7 linked regions of the Homo sapiens genome follow. The protein of the gene in region 7 purifies or fractionates together with the protein of the main gene of each other region. This does not show direct contact. Each region holds a gene or a part of one and is shown on either strand. Other genes may lie near its edges.

What was found.
Region 1: the proteins of SLC9A9 (region 7) and TMEM63B purify together in Homo sapiens (affinity purification with mass spectrometry; one large-scale study listed by BioGRID and IntAct). This does not show direct contact.
Region 2: the proteins of SLC9A9 (region 7) and ARL1 purify together in Homo sapiens (affinity purification with mass spectrometry, with the first as the bait; one large-scale study listed by BioGRID). This does not show direct contact.
Region 3: the proteins of SLC9A9 (region 7) and PODXL2 purify together in Homo sapiens (affinity purification with mass spectrometry; one large-scale study listed by BioGRID and IntAct). This does not show direct contact.
Region 4: the proteins of SLC9A9 (region 7) and MAP7D3 purify together in Homo sapiens (affinity purification with mass spectrometry; one large-scale study listed by BioGRID and IntAct). This does not show direct contact.
Region 5: the proteins of SLC9A9 (region 7) and NSF purify together in Homo sapiens (affinity purification with mass spectrometry; one large-scale study listed by BioGRID and IntAct). This does not show direct contact.
Region 6: the proteins of SLC9A9 (region 7) and DSC3 purify together in Homo sapiens (affinity purification with mass spectrometry; one large-scale study listed by BioGRID and IntAct). This does not show direct contact.

Annotation. Positions count from the first base shown.
Region 1 is NC_000006.12:44,140,320-44,144,786, reverse strand, and holds part of TMEM63B (mechanosensitive cation channel TMEM63B), read right to left. Parts: coding exon 4,427-4,467; intron 3,760-4,426; coding exon 3,689-3,759; intron 1-3,688. UniProt on the Homo sapiens protein: Mechanosensitive cation channel with low conductance and high activation threshold. Osmosensitive cation channel preferentially activated by hypotonic stress.
Region 2 is NC_000012.12:101,400,973-101,405,439, reverse strand, and holds part of ARL1 (ADP-ribosylation factor-like protein 1), read left to right. Parts: intron 1-2,493; coding exon 2,494-2,575; intron 2,576-4,266; coding exon 4,267-4,378; intron 4,379-4,467. UniProt on the Homo sapiens protein: GTP-binding protein that recruits several effectors, such as golgins, arfaptins and Arf-GEFs to the trans-Golgi network, and modulates their functions at the Golgi complex.
Region 3 is NC_000003.12:127,638,944-127,643,410, reverse strand, and holds part of PODXL2 (podocalyxin-like protein 2 precursor), read right to left. Parts: intron 4,167-4,467; coding exon 3,888-4,166; intron 1-3,887. UniProt on the Homo sapiens protein: Acts as a ligand for vascular selectins. Mediates rapid rolling of leukocytes over vascular surfaces through high affinity divalent cation-dependent interactions with E-, P- and L-selectins.
Region 4 is NC_000023.11:136,223,317-136,227,783, forward strand, and holds part of MAP7D3 (MAP7 domain-containing protein 3), read right to left. Parts: intron 4,116-4,467; coding exon 3,968-4,115; intron 2,698-3,967; coding exon 2,593-2,697; intron 1,565-2,592; coding exon 1,511-1,564; intron 1-1,510. UniProt on the Homo sapiens protein: Promotes the assembly and stability of microtubules.
Region 5 is NC_000017.11:46,635,056-46,639,522, forward strand, and holds part of NSF (vesicle-fusing ATPase), read left to right. Parts: intron 1-2,320; coding exon 2,321-2,487; intron 2,488-4,467.
Region 6 is NC_000018.10:31,004,283-31,008,749, forward strand, and holds part of DSC3 (desmocollin-3 isoform Dsc3a preproprotein), read right to left. Parts: intron 4,244-4,467; coding exon 3,987-4,243; intron 3,877-3,986; coding exon 3,734-3,876; intron 2,850-3,733; coding exon 2,625-2,849; intron 85-2,624; coding exon 1-84. UniProt on the Homo sapiens protein: A component of desmosome cell-cell junctions which are required for positive regulation of cellular adhesion. Required for cell-cell adhesion in the epidermis, as a result required for the maintenance of the dermal cohesion and the dermal barrier function.
Region 7 is NC_000003.12:143,491,234-143,495,700, forward strand, and holds part of SLC9A9 (sodium/hydrogen exchanger 9), read right to left. Parts: intron 4,216-4,467; coding exon 4,102-4,215; intron 2,532-4,101; coding exon 2,420-2,531; intron 1-2,419. UniProt on the Homo sapiens protein: Endosomal Na(+), K(+)/H(+) antiporter. Mediates the electroneutral exchange of endosomal luminal H(+) for a cytosolic Na(+) or K(+).

The sequences.
Region 1 (4,467 bases), on a different chromosome or scaffold from region 7:
GTCTCTAAAAAAAGAAAAAAAAATTAGCCAGGTGTGGTGGTGAGTGCCTGTAGTTCCAGCTACTCGGGAGTCTGAGGCAGGAGGATCGATTCAGCCCAGGAGGTCAAGGCTGCAGTGAGCTATGACCACGCCCCTGTATTGCAGCACTCCAGCCAGGGAGACAGAGTGAGACTCTGTCTCAAAAAAAATTGTTTTTTTTTTTAAATGAAGGACCACCAAGTATTGAATGCATGAGTTACTGTTCTAAAGTATTAAGATAGTCCTCATAAACCCATGAGAATTTAGAAACTTAAATCTGGGATAGGGTCCTTGAGATGTACTTCCCAGGAGGCTAGAGACCTTTCCTCTGATATTGTTCCTCAAACCATTTGAGGTTTCCCCTTTGGAAGGGTGAGCTCTCATTCTCACTAAACTCATCTCTAATCCTCTAAATCCAACCACACAGGCCCGTTGATTTGCATGCAAGATATTTCCTAATTGTGCTGAGACAGTCTTCCAATCCAGACAGACTGCAGACTTGGACCACAAGCCCTGCCTAATCCTGACAATGAGCTCAAGCGCTGTCTCTTAGTCCTCACCATATACCCAGCCCTGTCCCAACAGCTTGTATATAGCAGGTGTTCAATACACATGTGGTAAATGAGCGGATCAATGAAATGGCTACTCCATAATGCTCATCCCAGTGATCCAAAAAACTCCAATTAGGACTAGAGTCTCCCTTACCCCTGCTTATAGGCTGACCTCTCCTAAACAAAACTATAGACCAACCCCTGAAACACAACTAGGATCTTCAGCTTCCCAAGGGCACTGATCAGGTCTGATTATACTCTGTCTCCCAGGCATGAAGCACATAGTAGGTATACAATAAATGTGGGCTGAATGAATAGACAGTTGACTAGTAGGGTTCACTCAGGTCTCTGTTCAAATGCCACGCTGTCAGAGTCCCTCCCTGTCTATCCCATCAGAAATAGCAACCCTTCCCAACCCCTCTTACCCTGCCTGCTTCCCTGCTGTGGTTTTCTTAGCACCTACCTCTTCTTGACACAGTCTCTATTACTAGTTCATCCGGTCCCTGTCCACCCCTCCCCACTAAAATGAAAGCAAATGAGGGCAGGCCTTCTGTCGTTTACTGCTATACCCCCAGCTCCTCCCCAAGCAGGCACATAGCAGGTGCTCACTAGATATTTGTATCAAAAAACAAAAACAAAAACAAAAACAACAAACACCAGATTTCAATACAAGCTGACAACTGATTCCAACTGGATGGTAATATTAAGATGTCACCTAATTCATTGTTACAAAAGATGGTATGAGAAAAAAAAAAGATGTCACTAATTCTGAGTACACACTGTCCTTAATCCTGACCCAGAGTGCCCTTTAATGCTGATGACAGCTTGAACCTCAGATAGGACCCCAAATAGTTCTCTCATACTGACAAGAATGATCTAATTTTGACTGCTGTTTTATAGCCTGTATAAGGGCTGGGCTTGTTTCTAATTTATTTGTGCCTGGCACATAGAAGGTTGTCAATAACTGCATGTAGTATGAAAGAGTATCCATCTACTAATGCTGATCACACACCAGTCCTTAATCTTCTAACACAGGCTCTGGAATCTGACCCTGACCAGATAGATGTTCACTCTCAATCCTGCCCAAACACTATCTCTGATTGGATCACACACTGGCCTGACCCAGGACAATGAGTGAACTCTGATTCTGGCCAACTGACAGGTCTGGACCTCAGATTAAACCTTGATTCTTTACTTTCTTTCTTTTTTGAGACAGGGTCTTGCCCTATTACCCAGGCTGGAGTACAGTGGCGCAATCAGTTCACCACAGCATTAGCCTCTTGGGCTCAAGCCATCCTCCCACCTCAGTCACCTGAGTAGTTGGGACTATTGGTGCATGCTACCATGTCTGGCTAATTTTTATATTTTTTGTAGAGATGGAGTTTCGACATGTTGTCCAGGCTGGTCTTAAACTCCCGGGCTCAAGCAATCTTCTCAAGGGGATTACAGGCATGAGCCACCACACCTGGCCTAAACCCTGATTCTGATGGTAGACTGAGCCCAAATCTCAACCTCAGTCTGGGCCATGATCCAGACCACCAGCATCCTTTATCATGACCACTGGCCAGCTCCTGATTCTGACCACAGACTGACCTCAGAGCAATCTCTGATCAGACCCTGGACTAGCTCCTAAAGCCGACTGCCATACTATGAACCCCCTGAGAACTCAATGATTTTTTTTTCTTTTTTTGAGACAGTCTCGCTCTGCCGCTCAGGCTGAAGTGCAGTGGCACAATCTCGGCTCACTGCAACCTCTGCCTCCTGGGTTCAAGCGATTCTTCTGCCTCAGCCTCCTGAGTAGCTGAGACTACTGGTACGCGCCACCATGCCTGGCTAATTTTTGTATTTTCAGTAGAGACAAGGTTTCACCAGTAGAGACGGGGTTTCACCATATTGGCCAGGCTGGTCTCAAACTCCCGGCCCTCAATGATTTTTTTTTTTTTTTTTTTTAAGACATGGGGTCTCATTATACTGACCAGGCTGGTCTTGAACTCCTGGCCTCAAGTAATTCTCCCATCTTGGGCCTCCCAAAGTGTTGGGATTACAGGCGTGAGCCACCGTGCCTGGCCTCTTCTATTTTTTATTTTTTGAAACATTTGAAACAGGGTCTTGCTCTGTCACCCAGGCTGGAGTGCAGTGGTGCACAGGACTCACTGCAGCCTCGACCTCCTGGGTTCAAGCGATCCTCCCACCTCAGCCTCCCAAGTAGCTGGGACTACAGGCGCACGCCACCACACCTGGCTAAGTTTGTATTTTTTGGTAGAGATGGGGTCTTGCTATGTTGCCCAGGCTGGTCTTCAACTCCTGGGCTCAAGTGATCTGCCCACTTTGGCCTCCCAAAGTGCTGGGATTACAGCCATGAGCCACCATGCCTGGCCTCATTCATTTTTTACAGTCCCAAAGCCCACCACAGTAACTTATGACTAACAGCACTTGAGAAAGTTTGCTGAGTGAACAGATGCCTGTGTGAGAGTAGCCCTAATCCTGTGGTATAGAGACTGTCCCTACACACCCCCATGGAGGGGCCCTTCACTGATTCCCCACCCTATGAGCTGCGCCCCAAGGTGCATCCCTAGCCATGGGGTGACCAGGTAAGTTCCCTCTTTGCCTCATTATACCACCTCCCTTTTCTCTAGTTTCTGGCCATAGGTCTGCTCTACCCACCCCAAAACATAATTCTAGAGCTGAAAAAGCCTCAGAGAATACACAGTTCAAGTTCTCCTGGACTCCTTGGAATCCACTGGAAACCAAGGAGCTTCTCCCTGTCATGGCTGCACACAAACTCCAGAATGCTGCTTTTAATTTTGAAGAAGATATGTACTCCAATGGACCTGGGTCAACAACCTATGACCCAGTCTGAGCCAGGAGGAGGTTTGGGGGTTAGGGGGTTTGAATGACTCACTCTTCAGGTTTTTGTCTTATTTTTCCTGTTCTTAAAGGGGCCTATCACCCGACCCAAGTGCTAAACCACCCTGGAATCGGACATTTCTTCCTGGATCTAATCTCTATCCCACCCACGGCAGAGCTCCAGGCTAGGGTATAAGGATGTTCTTAGAGTTCAAAGGCAGAGAAGGCTCTGCAGCAGGGCTTGAGGGTAGGGGGAAGCGTGGCTTACTCACTCAAAATGCTTCTTGATCTTTTCTGACTCTGCATATTTGGAGATTCCATTGATGAAGAGGGTCCGCTTCACCTGGGTGACAGGGGAGTGGGTTTGCCTTCTGAGGCTTGACCCCAGTGGAGCCAGGGGATGTGAGGGGTGGGGGGCACTAGAGAAAGAGGCTTTGTTTTGAGTGGGTAGAGAAGTAGGTGAGCAGAGGGGAACAGATGGGGTGGGAGGAGGCCTTAGTTATGGATAAGCCAGGTCCCAGGGAAAGCAGGGGAGTGTTTCCAACAGAAATCAGGCAGTGAGCCTAACAAAAGAGCCACGCCGTCCCATGCTCTTGAGGGGTTATAGAGGCAGAAGGGGGTACTACTTTCAGCTCCTTAGACCCTGAGAACCCAGCACAGTGGCTGGCATGGAGTAGGTGTCCGGTTCTGGCTTGGTGAGTGCATGTAGAAGGGGAAGGAATATTACTATCCTAGGATCAGCCACTGCTATTTTCCCAAGTGCTGGGCACAGCACGGCTGTTTCTGTGTATTCCCCACAACCTTGGGGGAGGTACTGTTGTTATTCCATTTTACAGATGAGAAAATCATGGCTTGGGAGGTTATGTAACTTGCAGGATGGGAGCTCCTGAGCTGCTGTGCCAGCATTCAAACCTAGCTGACACCTCTTGGGGCTGAGACAAAAGAGGCCTGCAGGGAAGGGAAGGGAAGAGGCTGGGGATGGGGCAGGACCTGGGCTCTGCTCCACGCACCAGATCATCCTCCTTGTAGCGCATCTTGGAGGTGTGTCTAC
Region 2 (4,467 bases), on a different chromosome or scaffold from region 7:
ATCTTTACTAATAAAATACATAAGATAACAAATACCCACTGGTTTTCAGGGGGAAATAAACAAAGTAGGTAAAAGTACCTTTTAAATCTGTGTAAAGAATTATATAAATGTTAAGTGATGTTACATGTGAAGTGCCTTTTTTTCCTGTATTTGTTACTATTTTAATTAAGATTAGTTTATCTTAGGTAATTATATTGATTACTTTTAAAGATCTGAGTTGCAGAGACTGAGTGTTGAAGTAATTTGGTACCTTAAAAATATCAAGAGAAGGCCGGGCACAGGAGCTCACGCCTGTAATGGCAGCACTTTGGGAGGCCAAGGCGGGTGGATCACCTGAGGTCGGGAGTTGGAGACCAGCCCAACCAACATGGAGAAACCCCATCTCTACTAAAAATACAAAATTAGCCAGGCGTGGTGGTGCATGCCTGTAATCCCAACTACTCGGAAGGCTGAGGCAGGAGAATCGCTTGAACCTGGGAGGCAGAGGTTGTGGCAGGCCAAGATTGCACCATTGCACTCCAGCCTGGGCAACAAGAGCAAAACTAGGTCTCAAAATATATATGTGTATATGTATATATTTATTAAGAGAAGAAATACCTCAATTTTAATCAATTATTACTGTCTTACAAAAATATTCTCCAACAGTCTTACTGACTATATGAGAATACTGTTGTTATTTATACTTTTTTCATTTGTTGCCTTGAATTTACTTAGAGAAGAGTAGTACATTTAAATTAAAGAGTTCATACAGTTTGCTCAAGATTTTTTAAATTATGCCTCTAATGTTAGTCTGTCACTCAGGGTATTTCTATATTGTTACTGTTTAAATTTATGGACTAAAACGAAAGAGGCTAGCCTCTAAGAAAGAAGAGCGTTTTGAACCCTGTAATGTCTGTTATTCCTTTTTGCTACCTTCAGTAAATTTTAGTGCCCTTAGTTTTTGCTTCTCAAAATCACCCATCTCTGTCTGGGCATCTCCTGCAGTGCACAGAGCAGCACAGTGGATAGTTTGGAGTTTCAGTGAGTGCTGCTTTACACCACACTCTTTGTTGAGACAGTGTCTTGCTTTTTTGCCCAGGCTGGAGTGCAGTGGCACATTCATAGCTCACTGCAGCGTCTACCTCTACCTCTACCTCCTGGGCTCAAGCGATCTTCCCACCTCAGCCTCCCAAAGTGTTGGGATTACAGGCATGAGCCACTGCACCCAGTCTACACCATTCTCTTGTCTTGCACATATAAACGATGTTTTTTACTGTTGGTGAACATTGTGATTACACTCCTACCTAATTCTAAGGGAGACATCATGAACTTGCATTTTAGTTTTTTGCTCAAATTTGTCATAGTATTGTTATTTTTTAATTGTAATAGACATACTTGCCAAATACTCAAAGGTATCACTTACCACTGCAGACTTAAATATAAAACAAAAGCTAATTGTCCAGTTATACCTGGAAGTTATTTTTTATTTATTTATTTTTTTGAGACAGAGTCTCACTCTATTGCCCAGGCTGAAGTGCAGTGGCAAGATCTCGGCTCACTGCAACCTGTGCCTCCCAGGTTCAAGCGATTCTCATGCATCAGCCTCCAGAGTGGCTGGGATTACAGGCATGTGCCACCACACCCGGCTAATTTTTGTATTTTTAGAAGAGATGGGGTTTCACAGTGTTGGCTAGGCTGGTCTCGAACTCCTGACCTCAGGTGATCCACCCGCCTTGGCCTCCCAAAGTGCTGGGATTACAGGTGTGAGCCACCGCACCCAGCCATGGAAGTTATTTTTTACCTATTTTTCACCTAAGAAGGATGGCAGAGAAAAGGGATGGGACACCTGCCCTTTGACCACCCAGCCATGACCTTATTACAAGTGAGTTCTGGAGGATGTCTGCAGATGGGCTGTGAGATTGAAAGCTGCAGCCATGGCTGTGTCCATGCTGTAGTTTAGAACTGAAGTTTAGCTTTTTTTCTTTTGGTCTGTTTATTTGCTGCCAGCCAAAATTCTGCTTTTTATAGTACATCCACAACTGTACTTTCTAAATACAGCTTTCGAACACTTTTAACTACTCTATTATGAGGGGAGTTTAATATAATAGGATTTCCATTGAGCTAAAAATTATGTTTTCCTTTTTATTTCTTTTTTAAATTCTTTTTTTAATTTATTTGAGCTAAAATTATATACTTTATTTGCAGAACTGCTGGCTTTTAAAAAATATCCTGAAGATGGTATTGATCTTGCTAATTGATGTTTTGTGCACACACCTGCACATGTGTGGGGGAGCAGAGCATACTATTTCGTCTTAAATGGTATAAAATCTCAACCAATAATGTGATTCAACAATTACCATTTCTTTTTAACTCGAATCCTAAGACAAATTATATATATATATATTTTAAACTCTAATAACAGTTACCATTAATTGCTGTAACTCAATTAGATAGGATATTTTGAAGGTGGAATGTATTAGTCTACACATACCACTGATTTGATTTCTCTTCCAGCCATTGGATTTAATGTAGAGACGGTGACGTACAAAAACCTTAAATTCCAAGTCTGGGATTTAGGAGGACAGACAAGTATCAGGTATGGTACAAAGACCAGGTTATTTGGTAGTATTTGACATTTATTGATTCTTTTAAGGGTTAAAATCAGTAAACCCGAATATGTGTTCTATTGTAATTTAAATGGAGCCACCTAGTTTAAAATGAGGTAAAATTGGGAACTATTTCCTTAGAGCATCCATTGAGTTAAAACTTAAGGAAGCCCAGTTTTCCAGATACCTGTTTAATGAAAATCTTTTCACGAAAATCTCAAGACCTTATTACTTCAGCTATTCTCAATTAGAAAGGACCCTCCATTTAGTTCTTGTCAGTCTCTCCTCTCTGAAACACATTGTTTTGGAATTCATTAAAGTACCTTGCAGGCATACCATTTAGGGCTAATATAAAAATAAATGCCATTGGCCGGGCATGGTAGCTCACGCCTGTAATCCCAGCACTTTGGGAGGCCGAGGTGGGCGGATCATCAGGTCAGGAGTTGGAGACCAGCCTGACCAACATGGTGAAACCTCGTCTCTACTAAAAATACAAAAATTAGCTGGGCATGGTGGTGCGTGCCTATAATTCCAGCTACCTGGGAGGCTGAGGCAGGAGAATTGCTTGTACCAGGACTTGGGAGCTGGAGGTTGCAGTGAGCTGAGATCGCGCAACTGCACTCCAGCCTGGGCTACAGAGCAAGACTCTGTCTCAAAAAAAATAAATGAATAAATAAAAAATAAATGCCTTCTGAAGTTCAGGTCTTCTGCTTAGCATTTTGGGCTTGACATGGCAACAGTGAATGTTTGATGACCGTCAGTAGTTGGTCACGATAGTACCATCTTAAAAGATTAGTAATGCATTCTCCAAACATTCTGACTTCTTTTAACTCATTTCTTGAATCACGTTTCTTTTTTTTTAAATTGTGCAGCCTCCCAAGCCAGAGTAGGCTCAGAGAGACTCCATTGAATCACTTTTGAGTTTATTTATAATTTTAGCCATTTCTACTGCTTGATGTCAGTGATTAATTTCATGACTGTTAAATAAAATCACGTTTAAAAAGTTTATTCCTCTTAAGGGGTGCCTAGTTAAAGATTTGTTTAAGAAGATGTAATGATCAGGTCTGTGTACAACTTTTCTATCAGTATATTTAGTGATTTCATAGATTATAAATAAATTTTGTCAGCCTGAAGTCTGAATGAATTCATTTGGAAACTCCCTGGTCCTGTGAGTCAATGTTTATCAACATTCTTTTTTTTTTTTTTTTTTTTTTTTTTGAGACAGAGTTTCACTCTTGTTGCCCAGGCTGGAGTGCAATGGCACCATCTCAGCTCACTGGAACCTCTGCCTTCCTGGTTGAAGTGATTTTCCTGCCTCAGCCTCCCGAGTAGCTGGGATTACAGGCACCTGCCACCATGTCCAGCTAATTTTGTATTTTTAGTAGAGATGGGGTTTCTCCATGTTGGTCAGGCTGGTCTCGAACTCCCGACCTCAGTTGATCTGCCCTCCTCAGCCTCCTAAAATGCTGGGATTACAGATGTGAGCCACCGTGCCCAGCCAATGTTTATCAACATTCTTTTGACTCCATCACATCTGAGGGATATGGTACATATATCCACCAGAAACAGTGAATCATTAAGGCATTGATTCTAACATGTGTGGGACAGAATTGGCAATTGATATGTCAGTTTCTTCCTTAAAACAATAACAATATGTTCTCCCCTTTTAAATTTTCTCTAGGCCATACTGGAGATGTTACTATTCAAACACAGATGCAGTCATTTATGTAGTAGACAGTTGTGACCGAGACCGAATTGGCATTTCCAAATCAGAGTTAGTTGCCATGTTGGAGGTAAGAAAACGTAACCACTTTAAAATGTGGGGCAGTCATTTACATATTATTACATTGAAGAATAATTAAAAAGAATGCAGGGGTTGTTC
Region 3 (4,467 bases), about 16 Mb from region 7:
TAGTGAAATCCCATCTCTACTAAAAATACAAAATTAGCTGGGCGTGGTGGCACATGCCTATAATCCCAGCTACTTGGGAAGCTGAGGTAGGAGAATTGCTTGAACTTGGGAGGCAGAGGTTGCAGTGAGCTGAGATCACACCATTGCACTCCAGCCTGGGTGACTAGAGCAAAACTCCATCTCGAAGAAAAAAAAAGTAATTTTAAGCTTATAAAATATTTAATTTCTTTATGCCAAAAATTATAATAAAAATACAAGCAGTTGACAAACTGGAAAAATGTTTTCTACGTATGTCAGAGGAAAGTTAGTATCCTTTTTCAGATTTGTACAGGGATAAGAAAAAATTAAAGACTCAATAGAAAAAAACAGGAAAGTAATAATAATAGCTAATAGTCACAGAGCACTTAACAATGTGCCAAGCACTGAGCTGAGTGCTCGAAATGTATGATGGTGTGTGAACCTCACAACCCTGTGAGGTAGGTATATAATTATCTCCATTTCCTAGATGGGAAACTGAGGCTTAGGGTTAGTTACTCGCCAAAAATTGCATCACTGTTAAATGACAGCACTGGAGCCTTCCTGACTCCAAAGCCTGTTCTCTTAACTACACTGTGCTTCAAATAAAAAAGAAGAGTGATAAGTGGTCACTATTTTTGTGTATATGTATATTCTATAGAATACACATATTCTGTATATAATGAACGTACACATATGTTTTGTACATATATGAGTTAAAATATACTAGTAATCAAAGGCCATTATAATTTTTCCTATCAAACTGACAAGGGAAAGAGAGAACACTTGGTGGGGGGTGCGGCGTTCATTCTCTTCGTCTCCTCCCATATCTGGCCACCTCTCTACACCACTTTCCCTGCAGGCTCCCATCTTCATCCCTTCCCTGGTCTCACTGTGCCTAGAGATGGTAAGCACTCAGCTGTTGCTAGCCACAGATCCTTAGCCAAAGGACTTGTGAGTCCTTTGGTAGTTCACCTGTATCCAGCCCATACCTTCATAAATCTGCTGCTTCATAAACAAACTCTCCTTAGATTGTTTTAATTTGATTGTGTCTTCTGTTTCCGCGTGGGATGCTGACTGATACATCTTTTTTTTTTTTTTTTTCTGAGATGGAGTCTCGCTCTGTCCCCCAGGCTGGAGTGCAGTGGTGCAATCTCAGCTCACTGCAACCTCCACCTCCCAGGTTCAAGCAACTCTCCTGCCTCAGCCTCCTGAGTAGCTAGGTTCACAGGCGTCCGCCACCACACCTGGCTAATTTTTGTATTTTTAGTAGAGACGGAGTTACACCATGTTGGCCAGGCTGGTCTCGAACTCCGGACCTCATGATCTGCCCACCTCGAACTCCCAAAGTGCCGGAATCACAGGCGTGAGCCACGTGCCCGGCCCTAATACATCTTTTGACCTATCAATTTTATTCTAGAAATTTATCCTAAGGAAACCACCAGGAAGGTGCGAAAATGTGTAAGGATATTTGTAGCAGAATTAAAACTGAAGACAACCTAAGTATTCAACAGTAGGGAACCAGTTTAATACACCTGATGACCCACATGATGAAATATAACGTAGTTGTTAAAAATCAGGGCTGGGCACGGTGGCTCATGCCTGTAATCCCAGCACTTTGGGAGGCCGAGGTGGGCACATCACCTGAGGTCAGGAGTTCGAGACTAGCCTGACCAACATGGAGAAACCCTGTCTCTACTAAAAAAAATACAAAATTATTCGGGCATGGTGGCACATGCCTATGATCCCAGCTACTCAGGAGGCTGAGGCAGGACAACCGCTTGAACCTGGGAGGCGGAGGTTGTGGTGAGCCAAGATGGCACCACTGCACTCCAGCCTGGGCAACAAGAGCAAAACTCCGTCTCAAGAAAAAAAAATCAAGTTATAAGCCAGGCACAGTGGTTCACAGCTATAATCTTAGCACTTTGGGAGGCCAAGGGAGGAGGATCGCTTGAGCCCAGGAGTTCAAGACCAGCCTGGGCAACATAGCAAGACCCCATCACTACAAAAAAATGAAAAAATTAGTCAGGCATGGTGGCACATTTTTGGTCCCTGCTACCTACGAGGCTGAGGTGGGAGGATCGCTTGAGCCCAGGAGTTCGAGGTTACAGTGAACTATGATCACACCTGAACAATGGAGCAAAACCTCAACTCTAAACATAAATAAATAAATAATAACATGTTGTCCGGGTGCGGTGGCTCAGACCTGTAATCCCAGCACTTTGGGAGGCCGAGACGGGCAGATCACTTGAGGTCAGGAGTTAGAGACCAGCCTGGCCAACATGGTGAAACCCTGTCTTTACTAAAAATACAAAAATTAGCTGGGTGTGATGGCGCATGCCTGTAATCCCAGCTACTCGGAGGCTGAGGCAGGAGAATCACTTGAACTCAGGAAATGAAGGTTACAGTGAGCCAAGGTCACGCCACTGCACTCTAGCCCAGGTGACAGAGCAAGACTCCATCTCAAAAAAATAAATAAATAATAACATGTTTAAAAATCAGGTTATAAATGGATATTTAACAATGCGGAAATATACTTATGAAATATTTTGAGTGAAAACAAAATGTCCCTATGATTCCAATTTTGCACATAAAGTGACTAGAACAATGTATCCCCAAACTACTAATAGTAATTATCTTTCAATTATCAGGTTATAGGTAGTTTTTATTTTTTATTTTATTTTATTTTTTTTTGAGATAGAGTTTTGTTCTTGTCGCCCAGGCTGGAGAGCAGTGGTGCGATCTCAGCTCACTGCAACCTCCACCTCCCGGGTTCAAGCCATTCTCCTGCCTCAGCCTCCTGAGTAGATGGGATTACAGATGCCCGCAATCATGTCCAGCTAATTTTTGTATTTTTAGTGGAGACAGGGTTTCACCATGTTGGCCAGGCTGTTCTCAAACTCCTGACCCCAAGTGATCCACCCGCCTCAGCCTCCCAAAGTGCTGGGATTACAGACGTGAGCCACCACACCCAGCCTTATTTTCTTCTTTGTATTATTTTTGTGTGTTTCAGATTTTCTACAATGTTCATGTGTTCTTTTATAATTAGAAAAGGTAAATCCAATAAATATTACCTATTTTAAAAAGAAAAATTAAAGGTTAAGTTCTGTAACACCTTGCCCCATGTGCACACACAATCACACCAATTCCTCAGTCCCTACTAAGAGATGGGGCCCTGCTGGCCCAGGACATTGGTGGAGGGGCCATGCCTGCATCTGTATCAATGTCAGCTCATGGCGGTGGGCATTCAAACCTGGAGCCCTAGGCCTCGGGCTTTCTTCGGGACCCAAATGTTCACCAGCTGGGCTCTGTAGATCCAAACACCAGCTCTAGCTCTGGTGCATGACTGAGGGAAGGGCGGTTAGAATGCCTCAATTGCTGGTCGGATAGACTCAAGGAAACATGGATCAGCTGACCTTGTGGCAATCTTCAACAGAGACAGCATAGAGCAGTAGGGAAAAACAAAACAATGAGCCCCAGGGCTTGGAAAGCCATAGGTCTGAATCATGACTGAGCATCTGAGCTGCTGTTTGACCTCAGGCCAGCTTTTAACCTCTCAGTCTCAGTGTTTTCTTGTCTACAAGGGGGGTCATATTACTTATCTCTCAGGTTATAAGCATCAGATTGAATTAAATGAGCACAGAATAAAGGCTCCCTAAACAGTGGTTAGTATTAAAGAGAAAGGGCCTCCTGGGCCTGTGAGACATTCAGGGTCCCAGAGCCTTTGCTCTGATGTGCAGGTAAACAGCAGCAGCATGGTAAAAACTGTAGGGAGAGAGAAGAGATGCTTCTGGCAAGGAAATGGTCACCTGGTGTTTTGCCTAGACACTTGGCTGGCACTCAACACATGCTCTGTAGGTAAGAAGAGCTACCTGCAGTGGGTCCCAGGTCCAGACTTGAGTCATTCAGCTCTTCCTCCTCTTCCCAGAAGTACTGTGGTGGCTGCAGAATCCGAGACTCTTCATTCTCTTCGCTGGGGAAGCCTGAGCCAGGGGCTCCCAGCCCAGCTCCCAGGCCCATGGTCTCACTAGGCTCCTCTGAGTCCAGTGGCTCCAAGCCAGTGGGCAGCAGGAGGTCTAGCAGGGAGGTGGAGGTGAGGCCCTCTGGGCCAGGCTCATCAGACCCAGCCACACAGGCACCCAGGAACGCTCCTGTGCAGACATAAAAGCCAGACAGTCAGGGGAGGCTAGAGAAGACACAAGACTGGTGCCAGGTTAGAGCATGTCTCAAATGACAAAGGTCCTGGGGAAGGGGGGACTTCAGTGGACACTCCTGAAAACCCAGAGGCTTTGCGGGGATTCTGAGACACTATTTTCATTTCAAAAAGGCCAAATTGCTTAGACTTCCCTATGGCAGGGGCAAGGGGAGACAGATGGAGACAGGCAGGGGAGAGAGAGGAATCACTGAGTCAGTGTTCCACTGCGCATGTGGTCACTCAGAAAATGCCTCCTG
Region 4 (4,467 bases), on a different chromosome or scaffold from region 7:
AAAAGCACAGAATCTGGAGGAAAAAGGCCTTGAATACATGTGCTCCATCAAAAGACATGACATTGGGGTAAGCAAATAATGATGAAACAGACCACAAAGACACTCACCATAAGGGAAAAAATGATAAATTTGAACTTGTTAAAATGAAGAACTTCTGTCTGGTTCATCAATAGACATTAGGAGAGTGTGAGGCAAACTATGGCATGGAAGAAGATACCTGCAATATATATATCCAAAGGACTCCTAACCAGTGTAGGTAAAAATACCTACAATTCAATCAGAAAAAGGCAGGTGACAAAATAGGAAAATGGGCAAATGACTTGAAAAGGTACTTCACCAAAGCAAATCTCCAACAGGCCACTAAGCATTTATGAAAAGGTGCCTAACTTCATTAGTCATCAGAAAATACTGGTAAATTCAAGAACATTAAAATCAGAATGCAGGGTGTGGTGGCTCAAGCCTGCAATCCCAGCACTTTGGGTGGCTGAAGCGGGTGCATCACTTGAGCCCAGGAGTTCAAGGCCAGCCTAGACAACATGGCAAAATCCTGTTTCTACAAAAAAATAAATAAATAAAAAATAAAAAATTAGCCAGGTGTGGTGGCATGCACCTGTAGTCTCAGCTACTTGGAAGGGTGAGATGGGTGGATTGCTTGAGCTTGGGAGGTGGAGGCTGCAGTGAGCCATGATTGCGCCACTGTGTTCCTGCCTGGGTGACAGAGCAAGACTCTTATCTCAAAAAAAAAAAAAAAAAAAAAAAAAGCTTCTATCCAGAAGAAGACAACATTAAGAAAAGATAAACTGGCTGGGCATGGTGGCTCACACCTGTAATCCTAGCACTTTGGGAGGCTAAGGCAGGTGGATAACCTAAGGTCAGGATTTCGAGACCAGTCTGGCCAACATGTTGAAACCCTGTCTCTAATAGTAATACAAAAATAGCTAGGCATGGTGGTGCATGCCTGTAATCCCAGTTACTCAGGAGGCTGAGGCAGGAGAATCACTTGAACCCAGGAGGTGGAGGTTGCAGTGAGCCGAGATCACACCACTACACTCTGGCCTGGGTGACAGAGCGGGACTCTGTCTCAAAAAAAAAAAGAGAGAAATGATCAGCGTTTGAGGTGATGGATTTGCTAATTATCCTGATTTGATCATTACACATTGTATACAAAAAAAAAAAAGAAAAAAAGAAAAAGAAAAGATAAGCTGTAAACTGGGAGAAGGTATCTGCAACACATAACCAAAAAAGAAGCAGTATCTATAACATTTAAAGAACCACAATGAGACAAATCAACCCAAAAGTCTTGGGCAAAAGATAAAAAAAAACATTTCACACAAAAGAAATATGAGAGCTAACTAAAGATATGAAAACATGGTCAACCTTGTTGATAATCAGGGAAATGCAAATGTAATACTTTATTTCATTACCACCAGATTGGGTAAAGTGAAAAACTCGGCAATAATGTGAAACAAGAGGCATTCTTATACACTGCTGGTAGGAGTATGGAGACTACCTTTGAGGCATTCACATCTGTCTTTCTTGTCCGCTTCATAATTTCTTCTATTCTCTATTTAAAGGAAAATAAAAATTCAAACATGAAAACAGATTAGAAACCAAACAGTTGTCCTAAAGGAGTTGATTATCCCCATTTCACAGAGGTGCACAATGGCAGTGATTGCTCCAAAACCACAAATATTACCAACAAAAGGCTTACGGTGGCAGTTGAGTCCCCTATCCCAATCCCAGTTTCAGCTATAAAATGCCCTGAATGATGACCGCTGTATTTGTTATAACACAAACATTCAAATGACAACATCTCACTCCTAATTTTGCATATGCAGAAATTCATTAGACTAAGCATATATTATTGCGAACCAATTAGAGCTTTTAACATAATTTTAGTCTTTAGTCTTCAGCTGATTCCTGAAGCCAATGTTAATGAAAATAATACACCTCAATGATGCCACACTGTTTTGTGTTAATGAAGAGAGAAGATAGGAGGTGGAGGAGAAATATATTTCTAGGGAAGGACAGGAATTCTCTCTCCTGTGCACACTTCTTTCCCTGCAGTGAGGAGAGTTGCAGCTCCCTGGCCCCCTCAAGGTGACCAATCTACTACCAGATAGGCCTTGCAGCAACTCAGCCTGGACCAGGGCTGCAGATGAGCTCACATGTGGCCCTACCTTAAAAATAGCCTGCACCTTGGCCTCTCAAAGAGGCCTACAGTTTGTGCTTCTCCCCATGTAGTTGCTGCAATTTCCAGCCAGTTTAGAAGAAAGTCTTAACTTCTACCAACCCCTACCATGACTGGAGTCCTTCTGCTCAGAGAAGTTTTGTTACCAGAGGTTTGATATAGTGAGGCATCACTGTAATGGCCAATGGCCACCAAGGGTCCATGAGAGGGAGGCATGATCAGTAAGAGGACAGCCCTCTATGTAGGAGAAGTCAGATCCTTGGATAAGGAAGAGAATCGAGTGGGAAAACCACCAGGAACTAGCATATATCAGATTTGTGATTTTTAAAAACATGCTGATATCAGGTGCCCAACATTGTTTTAAACACAGAATCAAGTCCCCCCAAACAGAGAGCGAGTACCTTTTTCCTTTCTAACCGTTCTTGTAAATTTTGTAACATAATTCTCTCGTGTTCTTTCTTGCGTTTGTCAGCTTCCTCTTGAGCTTTTATTTTGGCGTCCCCTTTCTAGGAAATTTGCATAAAAATATCATTCAATCTCAAGATACCTGAGTGACATCAGAGAACTCTAGTTTAAAAATTTCAATGGTAAATGTTATCTAGTATAACAAAAGAGTGTAACCTTTTGAATGAGGGTTCCTATATCATGATATTTGCGGATTGTCAATTTTCAAAGCACTAGTTAGAATGCACAAAGCTAGGCTAAATGTTATCCTGAGGATTCAGGACCACAGGGTCATTGTTATGAACATCACACCATCCTAATTCAAAGTATGTGACTGTGGAGCTATCCATTAACACAGTAACAGGAGCCAACAGCCTGACATTTCTCAAAAGCACTGAGAGGATTCTTGAAGGCACCCTCCTGAGAAATGCAAGCATAAACAATCATATATAAAACATATGACCAATGCTGGTGAATAATACACTAAAAACTGGAAATATAAATTGGGCTATGGTAATAATTCAAACTGAGTATAGTCTGAGCTCAGTTTGGGCATTTATTTACCCAGTGACTTGACTTTAGATAGATGAGACATTCTTCAGTTAATGATTTTAAACTTGTAGAAGTATGTATGGTTTATCTTATCTGTTACAGGGGTGTAAGGTCCAGTTGATGGAGTTGTATATGGTACCACAGAATGCAAGATGGGGGAAACCAATGTAGGATGTGGAATCTGTTAAAGCAATTTGGATTTCAAATTAAGGACTACTAATCTACAATTTGCTGTTTTCTGCTTATTTCACTAGGAAAACATTCTATGGTTTTCTGAGGGTGGCTGACAATGACCTGCAGTGGTACTGGGTAATAGAGACTGTAACATAAAAATGCAGCCAGAGGTTGGGCGCAGTGGCTTACACCTGTAATCCTAGCACTTTGGGAAGCTGAGGCGGGCGGATCACCTGAGGTCAGGAGTTCAAGACCAGCCTGGCCAACATGGTAAAACCCCATCTCTACCAAAAATACAAAACTGAGCTGAGCGTGGTGTCAGATGCCTGTAATCCCAGCTACTTGGGAGGCTGAGGCAGGAGAATGGCTTGAACCTGGGAGGCAGAGGTTGCAGTGAGCCAAGATTGTGCCATTGCACTCCAGCCTGGCTGAGAAGAGTGAAACTCCATCTCAAAATTAATAAATAAATAAATAAAATAAAAAATAAAATGCAGCCAGAGAATCTGCTCATGTCTTCTTTCTCAGAGACAGAGATTTTTGCTCTGGGTTCCATCTGAACTTTATAATCTGGTTCTCATCCCCTGATAAAGTGTCAAGTCAGCAAACCTGCAGTGGTGCTTCCTGGTCTTCCTGATCCAGCCATCCTTTCTTCTTTTTAGTCTCATTTTGTTGCTGCCCATCTTTGAGTTTCAAGTGGTCTTCTGCTTGGCCTCCAACTGCTTCCTTTGCCATGTCTTTTGATTTCTTAATGACCCTGAGAGTATTTAAATAATTGTTAGTATTTATCTTGATTGCTATCATACTCAGCTTGCACTAGTGAGTTTTTATAGTGAAACTTCCTGTGTATAGTAATATAATTTATATCCACACCAGAGTCACTACATCTTCTGTGTTGTTACTATATAGGAATTACACAATTCCACCCCTTTTTAAAGAGAAAAACTAGCCCTCGGGAGCAGAAAAATATTTCAATCAAGTAATAGATTACTTTGCTTGTTAAAAAACACACATACGTGAGAGGAACTCATTCCTTAACTGTCTTTGAGACATGACATCCCCTAAAAGGCCTTCTTTACACGTGCTCACACCCAATCTCTCGTGGGGGT
Region 5 (4,467 bases), on a different chromosome or scaffold from region 7:
AAAAACAGTCTTTGTTTATAACCTGCTTTTGTGGTGAGAACTGTAGAAGCTCACTTACCCAATGTGACTTGGACTGGTAATTAAGTGAAAAGTTGGTTAAAGGCTTTTTCTTGGAGGTGTGGTCCATGGATTGGAGTTCTGTATTATCTTTTGTGCATACACTTTACCCATAATTTCCAGGTGGATTTCTTTGAAATGGCTGGAGAACTTAGACTTTGTAGAGCATCTGAGAGTGCCAAAACCTCTTGGATTTTTGTAGAGTTCACTCCCAACCTTTTCTAATTTTAATGCTTATACCTAGTTAGCAGTATTTTTTTTTTCTAGAAGAAACACTTCATTTAAAAAATTTTCCCAAAGCTTTCAACTTATAATATCTATTCTAGAATGTCAAAGTCATTGTAATAACAGTTCAACAACCAGGCCTTCAGAAGTTTTTATACTATTTAATTATATTTCATAATTAACTGTAACAAGTGTAACTAGCACAGACAGATACCAGAATGAACTTGGTTGACCCATGATGTGTAGCAACTCCTGTCTACAAGCTCTGAGCGTTAGGCAAACCATAGGCTGATGGGTATATGTTGGAGGGATAAAAGTTGGTCAGCTTTCTGATGACTCAGCTCAGTGGAGGTTGCTTACGAGAGCTGCTACTGTATCCTTAAGGGGCCATTGGTAAATTTTAGGACAAGTATCTTCAGGGAACCTAAAGGGAAAATAAATGTGTGTGTGTGTGTGTGTGTGTGTGTGTGTGTGTGTGTGTGCTCGTGTGTGAAGCCTTATTGAAGAGTAGCAATAGACTCTTTCTTACTAGGCGTAATCAAGTTGCCCTCCTGGGGAAACTCAAATGCAAAAATCCTCTTGAACTTTTCTGGGTAGCCTACTCTACTCTTTCCTAATAGTACCACTACAGTATACAGCACTGTAAAATTTTTTGCTTTAAAAGTTTGTTTATAAACTGGCATTTATAAGTATACTTTTTGAGCTGATTTAAGAATCAAGTTTTTTTTTCTAGGGAAATGCTTCTTTGTAATTATCTGTCACTAGCAAAATTTGTTTTAACATATATTTTTCTAAAAATATGATATGTAAACTGTGTTGTAGTTGTACAATTAAAGGTTTTTGGTCGAACAGTTATTACATGATGTAAAATCATGTGTAACACTTTAATATTAATTACATTGTAACCTAAAATTCATTTTAAAACTTTTTATGTGGCTTGAACAGGAATTTTCTTATCCAAAGCTTTGTATGTATGCTTTATTGCCTCCTTTGTTATTAGCATGGAGACCATGGGTTTTCTGTTATTGTTGTTTCATTTAAACAGTTCATGAATATATTAAGCACCTGAAAGAAACTGTTAGATGCTGTTAATAGGAAGAGGAGTTAAAAACCTCGTCCTTGCCCTTATCTACATGTGTACATGTAGAACTTACTGTAGTTCCCTAGATGTAGCAGGTGCTCAGGAAACATTTTTGTAGTAGTAAAAAAGAAATGTCAAACTCTAACTTGCTCTGGAGCAAATTCCGCTAGTAAACATTGTTTTTCAAGCTTCTTTTTTTTGCCTTGCGTCCTACTTTCTTAGGCCAAAATAATTCATCCACATCCCACCTTAGCTGTTTTTTTGTGTCAAACAAAAATCTTATTTGGAAATAGCATGTTATGCCAACTGTGTTGGGGCATCCCATACTGTATTGCATTAAATGAGGAGAAAGATGCAGAGGCCATGTGGGGAGGATTGTGATCCTGATAAGAGTGGGATGAGGGATAACAACAGAGAGACTGCCGTTCAATATTTCTTTCTTTCTTTTTTTTTGAGACGGAGTCTGGCTCTGTTGCCCTAGGCTGGAGTGCAGTGGCGTGATCTTGGCTCACTGCAAGCTCCGCCTGCCAGGTTCACGCCATTCTCCTGCCTCAGCCTCCCAAGAAGCTGGGACTACAGGCGCCCGCCACCACGCCCGGCTAATTTTTTGTATTTTTAGTAGAGACGGGGTTTCACTGTGTTAGCCAGGATGGTCTCAATCTCCTGACCTCGTGATCCGCCCGCCTCGGCCTCCCAGCGTGCTGGGATTACAGGAGTGAGCCACCGCGCCCGGCCTGCCATTCAGTATTTCTAATTAATTCAGATGGGGAAGAAAATCTCTAGTGACTATTATTTTTTAAACCTGTACCTGTGTGTCCCTCCAGTGAAGGCCATTTAAACCCCATTTTTGGTGAAGTAGTTTATGATTCATTTATGTGAAACTTTTAGTTACTAGAAACACTACAGGTATTTTGTACTCCTGTGATTTTTAAAAAAATGCTTCTTTTTTTCCCCTAGTCTCCTTATATACATTTGACAAAGCCAAACAGTGTATTGGCACAATGACCATCGAGATTGATTTCCTGCAGAAAAAAAGCATTGACTCCAACCCTTATGACACCGACAAGATGGCAGCAGAATTTATTCAGCAATTCAACAACCAGGCCTTCTCAGTGGGACAACAGGTAGTTTTTAATTTTCTTTCATTCCTTTAACTTTATAGGTATTCTAATTTCTGCAGTTTTCCAAAATTAATTCCACCTTTTAAAAAGTGAGAGGGGCTTTGCGTATCAACTCGTATATCCAAGGTGAGTGATAAAAGTGAGGGAGATGTATTTACTGAACTTCAAGGAGTCTGTTCAGAAAAATTCTAAAGTAGCTTTTAGATTAAAATGTCATGTATAATTATAGCAGCTTTTCCCTCAGCAAATTTGGGAACCCTGTGGACATATATATCTGAAATTCCTTTTTATATCATAGGACATTTGTTTTGCCTCTGGAATGTCTGTCTCTTTCACTAATATAGTTCTGTAGAAAATGTAGCTCTTGGCCAGACATGGTGGCTCATGCCTGTAATCCCAACACTTTGGGAGACTGAGTTGGGAGGATCGTTTGAGCCCAGGAGCTCAAGATCAGCTTGGGCAACAAAGTGAGACCCTGTCTCTACAAAAATTTTTTTAAAAGTAGCTGCGTGTAGTGGTCTCAACTACTCAAGAGGCTGAGGTGGGAGGACGGCTTGAGCCTGGGAGGTTGAGGCTGCAGTGAGCCATGATTGTGCCACGGCACTCCAGCCTGGGTGACAGATCGAGATTGTCTCAAAAAAAAAAAAAAAGTTCTTATTTTGGTTATGGGCTTATTTGAGAATCTTAAAAAACTGAATTCCTGCTAGATAGGAAAAGGATATAGTACATTATTTTAAAAAGAGTACTAGAATTGGAATGAACCTCAAGAGATTACCTTATGTAACTCCACATATACAAATGAGGAATTTTATTTTTTTATTTTTTAAAATTTTATTTATTTATTCATTTATTTTTTGAGATGGTGTGTTACCCTGTCATCCAGGCTGGAGTGCAGCGGCACCATCTCAGCTCACTGCAACCTCCGCTTTCTGGGTTCAAGTGATTTTCCTGCCTCTGCCTCCCGAGTAACTGGGATAACAGGCATGCGCCACCACACCCGACTAATTTTGTACTTTTAGTAGAGATGGGGTTTCACCATGTTAATCAGGCTAGTCTCGAACTCATGAGCTCAGGTGATCCATCCGCCTTGACCTCCCAAAGTGCTGAGATTACAGGCATGAGCCACCATGCCCAACCATTTTTTTTTTGTATTTTTAGTAGAGATGGGGTTTTGCCATGTTGGCCAGGCTGGTCCTGACCTCAAGTGATCCTCCCACCTCGGCCTCCCAAAGTGCTGGGATTACAGGTGTGAGCCATCACGCCTGGCCAAATGAGGAATTTAAGATCTAAAGAAGGTAAATGGTATGCCCATGGCTACACAGCTAAGGGACATAGTTGAGATAAGAATTAATTAAACACATATTTGATAGTACCTAGTGCCTAGTACCAGTCACTGTTTTAGACACTGCAGATCGGCAGTGAACAAAATAGATATGATCCCTGCTGTCATAGAACTTACTTTCTAGTTGAAGAAAACAGAAAATAAGACAGGAATACCATGTACAGTTAGGTCTCTGATGAAAGTAGATCAGGACAATTCACCAGAGAGCTATTGCGGTGCTGTTGTGTATTGGATGACCAAAATTGTGCTCAGATTGCCTAGCTAAACTTGATGGTTTTTACCTTTGCTTTTAGTTTTAGTATCCTAATAGAAAATGTTTAGGAGAATGTTTAATAGAAAATGCTTTGGTATTTATAATAATTTAAAACTCAGTAGCATGTAGAAGTCAGTAAATCCATGAAAGAGAATCTTTCGTAATTCAGAGAAGAAGTAAATATCTTACTCCAGATCACTGTCCTTAACTGTTTCTTCTCATTTGTGGTATCTCGTAGTAGCAGAATGGACAGACAGCCCAACCTGTAATATTTACCATTATACCCCAGCACATAGAAGAAGACCAAACTTTTAGAAGGGACTCAGCAAAGATTTGGTGAATGAGTAATTGAGCATTCAGAAGCTGTCTCTGCACTTGTAGGGCAAGC
Region 6 (4,467 bases), on a different chromosome or scaffold from region 7:
GGCCGGCCCTGTCTTTTACAGTAATAGGAATGGTATATTCTTGAAATCCAGCATTTTTCTGATATGAAAGACGGGCAGCTGTATCTGAAAGAAAATAAAAGAAGTTTATTTTTTAATGATCATTTATTCTTCCCTTAGCATTTGTTTCATCACGCTTGTTTTTGAAGGCGTCATTCTCAAGGAACTGCCTGCCAGATGAAAATAAATAAAAATGGAGGACTGTCTTCAACCCTTTCAAACTCTACTGTTATCTTATATGTGTTGTCCCTTGTAATTCCTTAGAAGGGAGCCCTAAAGAAATAATTTGGCATTGGAGTAGCCCAGTAGTATTCCAGTAATGTTTATCTATACAAACTAATACTGTTAGGTTGGCTGTTAACATACACTTCAAGCATTTTTCTTTAGTACCAATGTATCTACAGGTACACACAAATAGTTTCTGAAGTTTACGTTTCTTATCCATTGACCTTCTAGTATTTGCGCACTATTCATATGGATAAGGTAATTTTTCAAAGCACAATAGATTGTTTACGATTAACACCTTTGCATCTGGAAGTAATCTTAGTACCAGAAGCTAATTAATGTCACTCAGGCTACTTATAAGGCTTACACAAAACAGAAATATCTATATAACAATTCACTTTTATCAACTCTGATAGTCAATTTTCCCCAATAGTCTTGATCTATTATTTTAATGACCATATTGTCAACTAACCAAAAGCTCCACAGAATTTCAATGGCAGTTACAGCCTCCCTGAGCTTTTATAATAGACTAAGTAAAATGAAAAAGTAGCATAATACACACCCTGGAAGTCATCTGGAATTCCTAAGCCTTGATTAAATGCTCTGCTGTAGCTGTAAGAATTTCAAAGATTTTGGCTGCACCTCATACCTGAAGGCTCCCTAGAGGAATATGAATTACCACTTGGGTTTACTTAGGACCCTTCAAGACCACACTGTGTCTAAGGTAAGATCCTTGAAATCTCTCCGCTCCCTCAAGACAACAAGTGGAGCCATTGTCATGTCTCAGTTATTCACAGTAGTGCATTGGCCTCTGATTTTTCTTCACTCAACTCTGCCCCCTTCATATTGTCCTCCTGTCAACAGTGTCACCTTTAAAAGATGTAAATCTGGGAATGGCATTGCCTTATTTGCACATTCCCAATGCATAATTGCTGTTGCCTACTGTACCAAGGTTAGTCCCCTCAGCCTGGCACACAAGGCCCTTCACCACCAGATGCTACCCTTCCTTCCACCCAACCTCTTGGCATTCTTACTAAAACCTTCTAAACTCTAATGACATGGATATACTTATTCTCCTGGTATGTTTCTTCTTTTATGCACATTATTAATCAATTATTGAACAAGCAAACATTTATGAAGCAGTTAGTATCTACTAAGCATTAGGCTAGGTGCTGGAAGTACAAAGATGAATTGCAAACATTCTAGGAAACTCATGTATTGGAAGGGAGAAGTAATCAGATGTTAATACAACAGGAAAGGCACTGCAATGCAGGTAGCGAAGGGTCATGGTGCCACTCCTTCCAATTCAAGACAAACTTCAGAGGTGGAGCATCTCAGCTGGGATTGTGTCTGTCTTGTTCATCTCTATATAAATCCTCAGGATCTGGACGAGTGCTTAATAGATAGTAGATGTTCATAAATATCATGAAAAAAATATCATGCTCATAAATATCAAGCTAAGAAATGGAAAAGGAGGTATTCTATGTAGATATGGCTATATACACAAAAGCCCAGTTGCATGAAAGAACATGGCAGTAACAACAGAATGAAGTATGGATGAAGTACAGAACATGACAGCCCCCAGAAACTGCTACAATAGGCAGCAGCCCCTCAATACTCCTTCCCATATCCCTTGCTATATCCCGCCAGGTTCACTTCCAGGATACCCTAGAGTGCTTGGTCTATACACCTGAGTTCCTCACTTCCAGAGTCAGCTTACAATACAATTTAAACTACACATCTTCTGCTCTCTCCTCACCTCGCTGGTATTATTATTATTATTATTATTTTGAGACGGAGTCTCCCTCTGTCCCCCAGGCTGGAGTGCAGTGGCACCATCTCTCAGCTCACTGCAACTTCCACCTACTGGTTTAAGTGATTCTGCTGCCTCAGCCTCCCCAGTAGCTTGGATTACAGGTGCCTGCCACCACGCCCAGCTAATTTATGTATTTTTAACAGAGATGGGGTTTCACCATGTTGGCCAGGCTGGTCTTGAACTCCTGACCTCAAGTGATCCACCCACCTAGGCCTCCCAAAGTGCTGGGATTACAGGCATGAGTCACCATGCCCAGCCATTGGCATTATTTTTAAAAACATGCACACACACACACAAAGTTTGTCTTAATGATAAGCTGCCCAACATTTTAACAAAGCTTTCCTTTGTTGTAAATGTAAATGTTGCCTTCATAAAAATTACATCTTCCTTCATTTTATATATAACAGAGCCCCCATATAATATTTGTAAAAGGTTAGTTTATCCTTCTAAAATATATTAATGAGACTCAGTTTTACTTCATGCTTTGTGTAAGTAAGCAAGTCAATCTATCCTCCAGTTATTCTGTTATTTCAGAGTTTATAAATCATTATTTTTTATTAAATACCATTAACTTTGGTGAGGCTCCACAGTCTACTGATTTCTGGAGAAGTATTGGGCAAACTGAAATAAAATGGAGCTCCATGGACAGGTTCATCAGGATCAACAGCTAAAATGTCGGTATACCCCATTTTTGGTTTGCAAATGACTACATATTCTTGAAGTATTTCTGGTGGATTATCATTTACATCTTCAATGTTCACAGCAAGTGTTCCAGTACATGATCTATCATCTAAGGAGACAGGAATAAGGTTTAGTGTTATTTTAAAATTCTTTCATAGTTTCTTAAAGAATAAAAAGTCAATTATATTCTATACATGATCTGTTTTTAAATAAACTGATTATTAAAGGAAATGATAAATAAATAAGAACATAGACAGATAAATAGAATCTGCAGCTAATTTGAAATGACTATTGCTACTGATAATATCAGATACAACTGTCAATAAATCTTTTACCAGAATTACTACCAAATAAAAATAAATGTCTGAATTTCAATCTCTATTTTTGGGGGTTCCAGGTGCCACATGTTAGTAAGCAGTAAAGTGGTTACAGATAAGATTTCTAATCCCAGTATATATTCAAACCACTAGGAAGATTTTTTTAAAATATAAGATTCCTAGGCTCCACAACCGGATATTCTGATTCAGTTAGTCTAACAAAGTATCTACAGATTAATATTTTTATTTTAATGTGAAGACAAGGTTGAAAAACTCTAGGTTACTTTAAGGAACAGAATTCAAGAAAAGGATCATTTTGACCTAATATGCAGCTGAACTATATAAAAGCTCAATTTAAAGTGACACAAACGGATGTGGAAGAGTCTGATGAGACCATTTTATCTAGTTTTAGATTTCAGTTTTATTTTTGTCCTCTAGCATAGAAATACATAAGAATTTAAGGTCCTGCCCTATTGGGGATATAAAGATAAATAAAACACGGCTTCTTGTCACCAAACAGTTTCACCTTGTTAGATAATTAAGAGAGACAGAAAGAGTCTTTAAAGTAATTTCAAAGAATTCCATACACTTACCACCAAAATAAATCTGCATAAGAATAATTACATTTTATTCTCTAATTCCTTTATAGAATACCAGATTAAAACTTTTTTTTTACCTTTGTCTATTGCCAGGACTGTAATATTATACAACTCATTTTTGGGAGTTTCAACCTCCCTATCCAGGATTTTGGAAGTTATGATTGACCCTGAAATTTCATCAATGGTGATCCAACCTTTAGGATCATGCAATTTTTTGTACCTGTTAATAAAAAAAAAATAGTCTTTAGCATCAGAAAATGTTTTCAAATAAGTTACTATCTCAATGATTACAAATACATTATTAGTATGTGGTTATAGATTTATTTTTACCTTAAACCATTGCCATTTCTATTTTCGGGGTCATATGCCTTATAGCCGTTGATCTTTGACCCCACTGCTAAGTTTTCTTTAATCCGCACATATTGGGCTGCAGGAGTGCATTCAGGCCCCTCATCCAGATCCCTCACATGAACTGTAACCAAGGCTCTGTTCAAGGCTGTCACTCTGGGAATATCTCTAGCAAATGGCGCTTCATTGTTTACTCCAATTTCCAGGTTCACTTGACGGTTTTCTTCATAATTCAGTGGCTTTAAAATAAAGTCCATGTATATCAGTGTCAGTGTAAAATACATCTGGCATTTCAAATGGCAAGTGAACATTTGTCATCCTGACCAGTGCTGCATAAATTCTATGTTCACATGTTGTTAATACTGACTTTTATCCCTTGCTAAACAGAGAGTGGATCCCGTGCTAAGCCTCTACCAAGAATGGTCCAACAACTTCTGCAGGTAGTTTCATAGAGTTGGACAAA
Region 7 (4,467 bases):
ACTGGCTGATTGGCATTCTCATGAATTAAACTAATAATTTCAACCCCATTAATATGATAGGGTTATTGTTTTTCTTCCAGAGGGTAAGGATGCTTTAGAATAGGGCCAGATAGTAATATTTTATTTTTTATGAACTATATGATTATATATAGTTCACAACTCTGCCACTGTAGTGCAAAAACAGCCGTAGACAGTAAGTAAACAAATGGGTTGGGATGAGTTCCAACTTAATAATATTAATAAAATAGCCATGGATCAGTTTTGATTCAAGAGCCATAGTTTGCTGACTCCTGGCTTTAGAATATCATAGAAATAAATTCTGGACCTCCTCACATCCCCTGGCTGTACACATCATATTATTGGCCTCTACCAGGTTTTAACGCAGCTCCAATACTACCGTTAAACAAACTTAGAAGGTGCGAAAGCCTGGAGAAACCATCAAGACAGGTGGCCATTTGGGCAGACACTTCACAACCTAACATGATTATCTAAGGCCTTATATTTTTCTCAAAGCATTGTTTGTCAAATAAAGCAATGTTTAAAATGTAATATTGAAGCTTTGAAAATAAGCTGCTATTCTCCAGAGTAAAGTTACTGATGTTTTGATGGGAAAGAAGGAAAAGTGCTTTCCAATTCCCAGAAACGTTTTGAAAAAATGCAACCCAATGCTGGCTTCCCATTTATGAGTGCTCAAGTTTACCTTTTGCTTTCTCATAATAAAAGTCAACTCATTGCCAAAGTTTATTACTGTTCTAAGTCAAAAATCACCTACCACTTGGCCGGGTGTGGTGGCTCAAGCCTGTAATCCCAGCACTTTGGGAGGCCGGGGCGGGTGGATCACAAGGTCAGGAGATCGAGACCATCCTGGCTAACACGGTGAAACCCCGTCTCTACTAAAAATACAAAAAATTAGCCGGGCGTGGTGGCAGGCGCCTGTAGTCCCAGCTACTCAGGAGGCTGAGGCAGAAGAATGACATGAACCTGGGGGGCAGAGCTTGCAGTGAGCCGAGATCACACCACTGCACTCCAGCCTGGGCGACAGAGCGAGACTCCGTCTCAAAAAAAAAAAAAAAAAAAAATCACCTACCACTCCAACTTCTCACCTTCCTTATGACTCTCTCTCTCTTACCCTAACATGTCTGGAAATGTAAGGAAGTACTGTCAGAGGCCTTCAGTAGGGCAAATTTAATTTTGTATCTCCATTTGTCTGTATTTGAATCAATGACTCACTCTCAGCTTGGGAGCTGCCCCTTTTACCGTATGGACCAGGCTAGGATGGCACTGAAGGCAAAACAAGCCTTTTACTGCTTTCAGAAATGTGGATTTTGAGACACTTGGTTGGGTTTAGGTGGAATCTCACAGACCTGGGTTCAAGAATACATTTGTTCTTGACCAAGTTTCATAACCTTTTTGAGATCCTGAACCTCAGTTTCTTCATCTACAAAATGTGTTAATACTTGCTTCACAGGATTAATTAAAAAATAGTGAGTGGCAAATAGCAAGTGCTAATAAATGTTCATTTCTCTCACTTTTTCTATATGCCCCTATGTACCCTAAATTGTATTTGTTCATGCTGATAGCAGGTTTTATTGTAAACTCTCATGTATCCCCCAATAACTGCCTCTGAGTACATTGTAAGTGTACAGCTACATAGGAATCACGTAAGGATCTCTGCAAAAGGTCTTTGAACAGGGAAAGACTGAAGGTAGGAAAATTAATTGACTAAAGATAAACCATAATCTCCAGAGCTTTCAAGGTCAGAAAATTCATTTGGTTTATTTTCTTTTGGAAAGGAGCCTTGAGGTATGGTTTAAGCAATTAGAACACAAATGTCTTGAGAACAGAGACCTTGTCAGTTTCATCAATCAGTGCCCAGAACTCATCTCAGGCACCTGGTGAGTGCTCAATTAATATTCGTTTTCTCAACTAACAACTGAGCATACTTAGGTCTGATTTGCTTTTGTATTAACTGTGAGGAGTTTCTGGAGCTTTGCATAAGGAAGGAGCAGGGATTTTATGGAGAAGGAACACTGGATAAGGGGCATTGGATAAGAGTGGCACCATTTACACACTATTTACCCTGAGCATGCAATTTATGAAATTATAATTCAAATTCCCCAGTATGAAAAATTGATCTGAAATGGGTCAGAGGAAAGTCCAATGTCCACTCTAGGCCAGTTTCTGACCAGATATGATACCTTGAAGCCATACCAATAAGATTCCCTCTAACTTCATTTCCCACTTGGAAAGAGAAATCCTGCTGTTGCTCAGCACTTACGGAGAATCAGCATAGTGTTAGGTACAATGGGATAAAGAGAAGTTGTTTCCCCAAAAGGGTTCTAAATTTTCTCATGGTTTTTCATGTTCTGTAAAATTGTGAGAAAACCAGCAGCACTAACATATAACATAGTTCACATACCTGAAAACATCATCATGTGCTGAAAGTTCCAGGGGATCTTCTGTTTTCGGCCTAGATTCAGGAGGAAGGAGAGGGGATATATGTTGCAGGCTCTGGCAACAAAAATTGCTAGCTGTAGATAAGCACAGGGAAACATTGAGGAAAGTGTTGCTGCAATGATGGTTTGAATCCTTGAGCTTAAATATTATGTCCTCAAGCTTCTCTTCATTATGACCCCAAAACCAGAAATAAACATGTCAATTCACATTTGTCCAACTTGCTTCCAAAATTTATATTTCAAAGTCAAGTTCTTCCCAGAAATAATAGAGAACTCTGCCTTTCTTTGATACTTGCTTTAAAATTGTTAGCCCAATACCAATTCAATCACTGTAAATTTTCTAATCACATTTATATTGCTGATGACTGACTATCCTCAATTCTGCTGTAAAATGTGAGGCAGAGACCATTCAGATGCTGTGGCATTATCTTCCCAAGTGGTACTTTAGAAAGGATAAATGTGCTTCTGTTCATGTTTACCATCTTCCTTCTTATCAGTTTATATTTCCTATATCTAGCAAGCTTTGCATACCTTTTTCTTTGGTGAATTAATTTTGAGAGGAATTACCTGTCTAATTACATAATACAACTGTTGCTTTATCTGGCAATTTCCTAAAATAAAAGTTTATAAGTAAAAGTCTTTGAAAATATTGGCGCTCTTCATCTTTCCCTTTTTGTTGTCTTTGACTCCTTCCCCGATGGGCTATTCTAGTTTGTCCTCAATGGGACGGAGTTATTTGGCAAGAGTTAACTTCCTTTTAAAATCCAGGTTTTGGATGAAATTTTAGGGTTCAGCTGAATGCTCAATGAAAAGAGACTAAGAAGCAAATGCAGATGTTTAATTGGAACACAGTTTATAGAGAGGGATTGCCTCTGCTGGCTGTTCGGATTATCTGTGATCCAAGGTGGCATCTGCCCATCTTCCAAGTGGGAAGAAGGACAACAGTTGCTGACTGCCTTTGGGGACATTCCTAATGGCTCAACATCCTTTCAGATAGATATCCATTCCCACTGGAAACACCTCCTGTCCCAGGCCTAGAGCTAGGAAAACCCCCTGCATTAAAAGTGGGGTCTAGATTTCATCTGTCTTCATAGGAAAGGAAGGGTGCTATCTTATTCAGATGAACCTGTATTTGAACAATGCTTATGATGTTGAAAGCACATGCATCATGCTAATTTCATTTGATCATCTATCCTATTTTTGAAGTCCGTATTGGAAAAGAGATTTTATCATCTTGCAATGAAAACATTTCCAAAGCTGAATAATCCTGGATGCTTCCTGATATACTCTAATGCAGATTAAGTCTGTTTCTCTATAAAGAATACACAGACATAATTTTTATGTAAATGATTCATAATTATAGTTAAACATATTTTGAATGCTTGAAAAATAGATTTTCCTTTAATTTCCCTCTTTATTTCCACAGTTCTTTCCAAAGTTCTTATCTTGAACCATAATTATTTAATGGAGGTCCTAATTTCTTAGGATGTTTTCCTCCCCTAACTAGAAATCACGTATCTGCCTTGTGTCTGAGCCTTGCAGTGGACTTTAGGAAAGTGCTTTAATGATTTAACAGAATAATTCGTAAAAGTAAGTCATTCGTTATCTTCTCTAATCACCCCATGTTCTGTATTTCAAAGGATACAAAGGCTCCAAGTATAAAAAGAGCATTAAAGATATGATTCTGGAACGTGAACAGTGCCAGGCCCATGTAACAGAAGATGACGTTCTCCGCCAAAAAGTTCATAAATTCAAACAACTGAAACAAAACATAAAACAAAAAACCATTAATTATAACTCAGGTTTGAGTGCACTTACTTTCTGGTAACTGTATTTGACAACTGACTGGGTCTCCTTTATCTGGAAGGCCACCCCTTTGGCCGTGTGCTTAGCCTCTGAAGGAGGATGGAGGCCCTGGCTCTTGACCCAGGGACAGATGCCACAGCCACATCAGCATCCCATTCTTTCCAACTGTAAGGCTGCCAGAGACACGCCTGGGTAATATTAACCA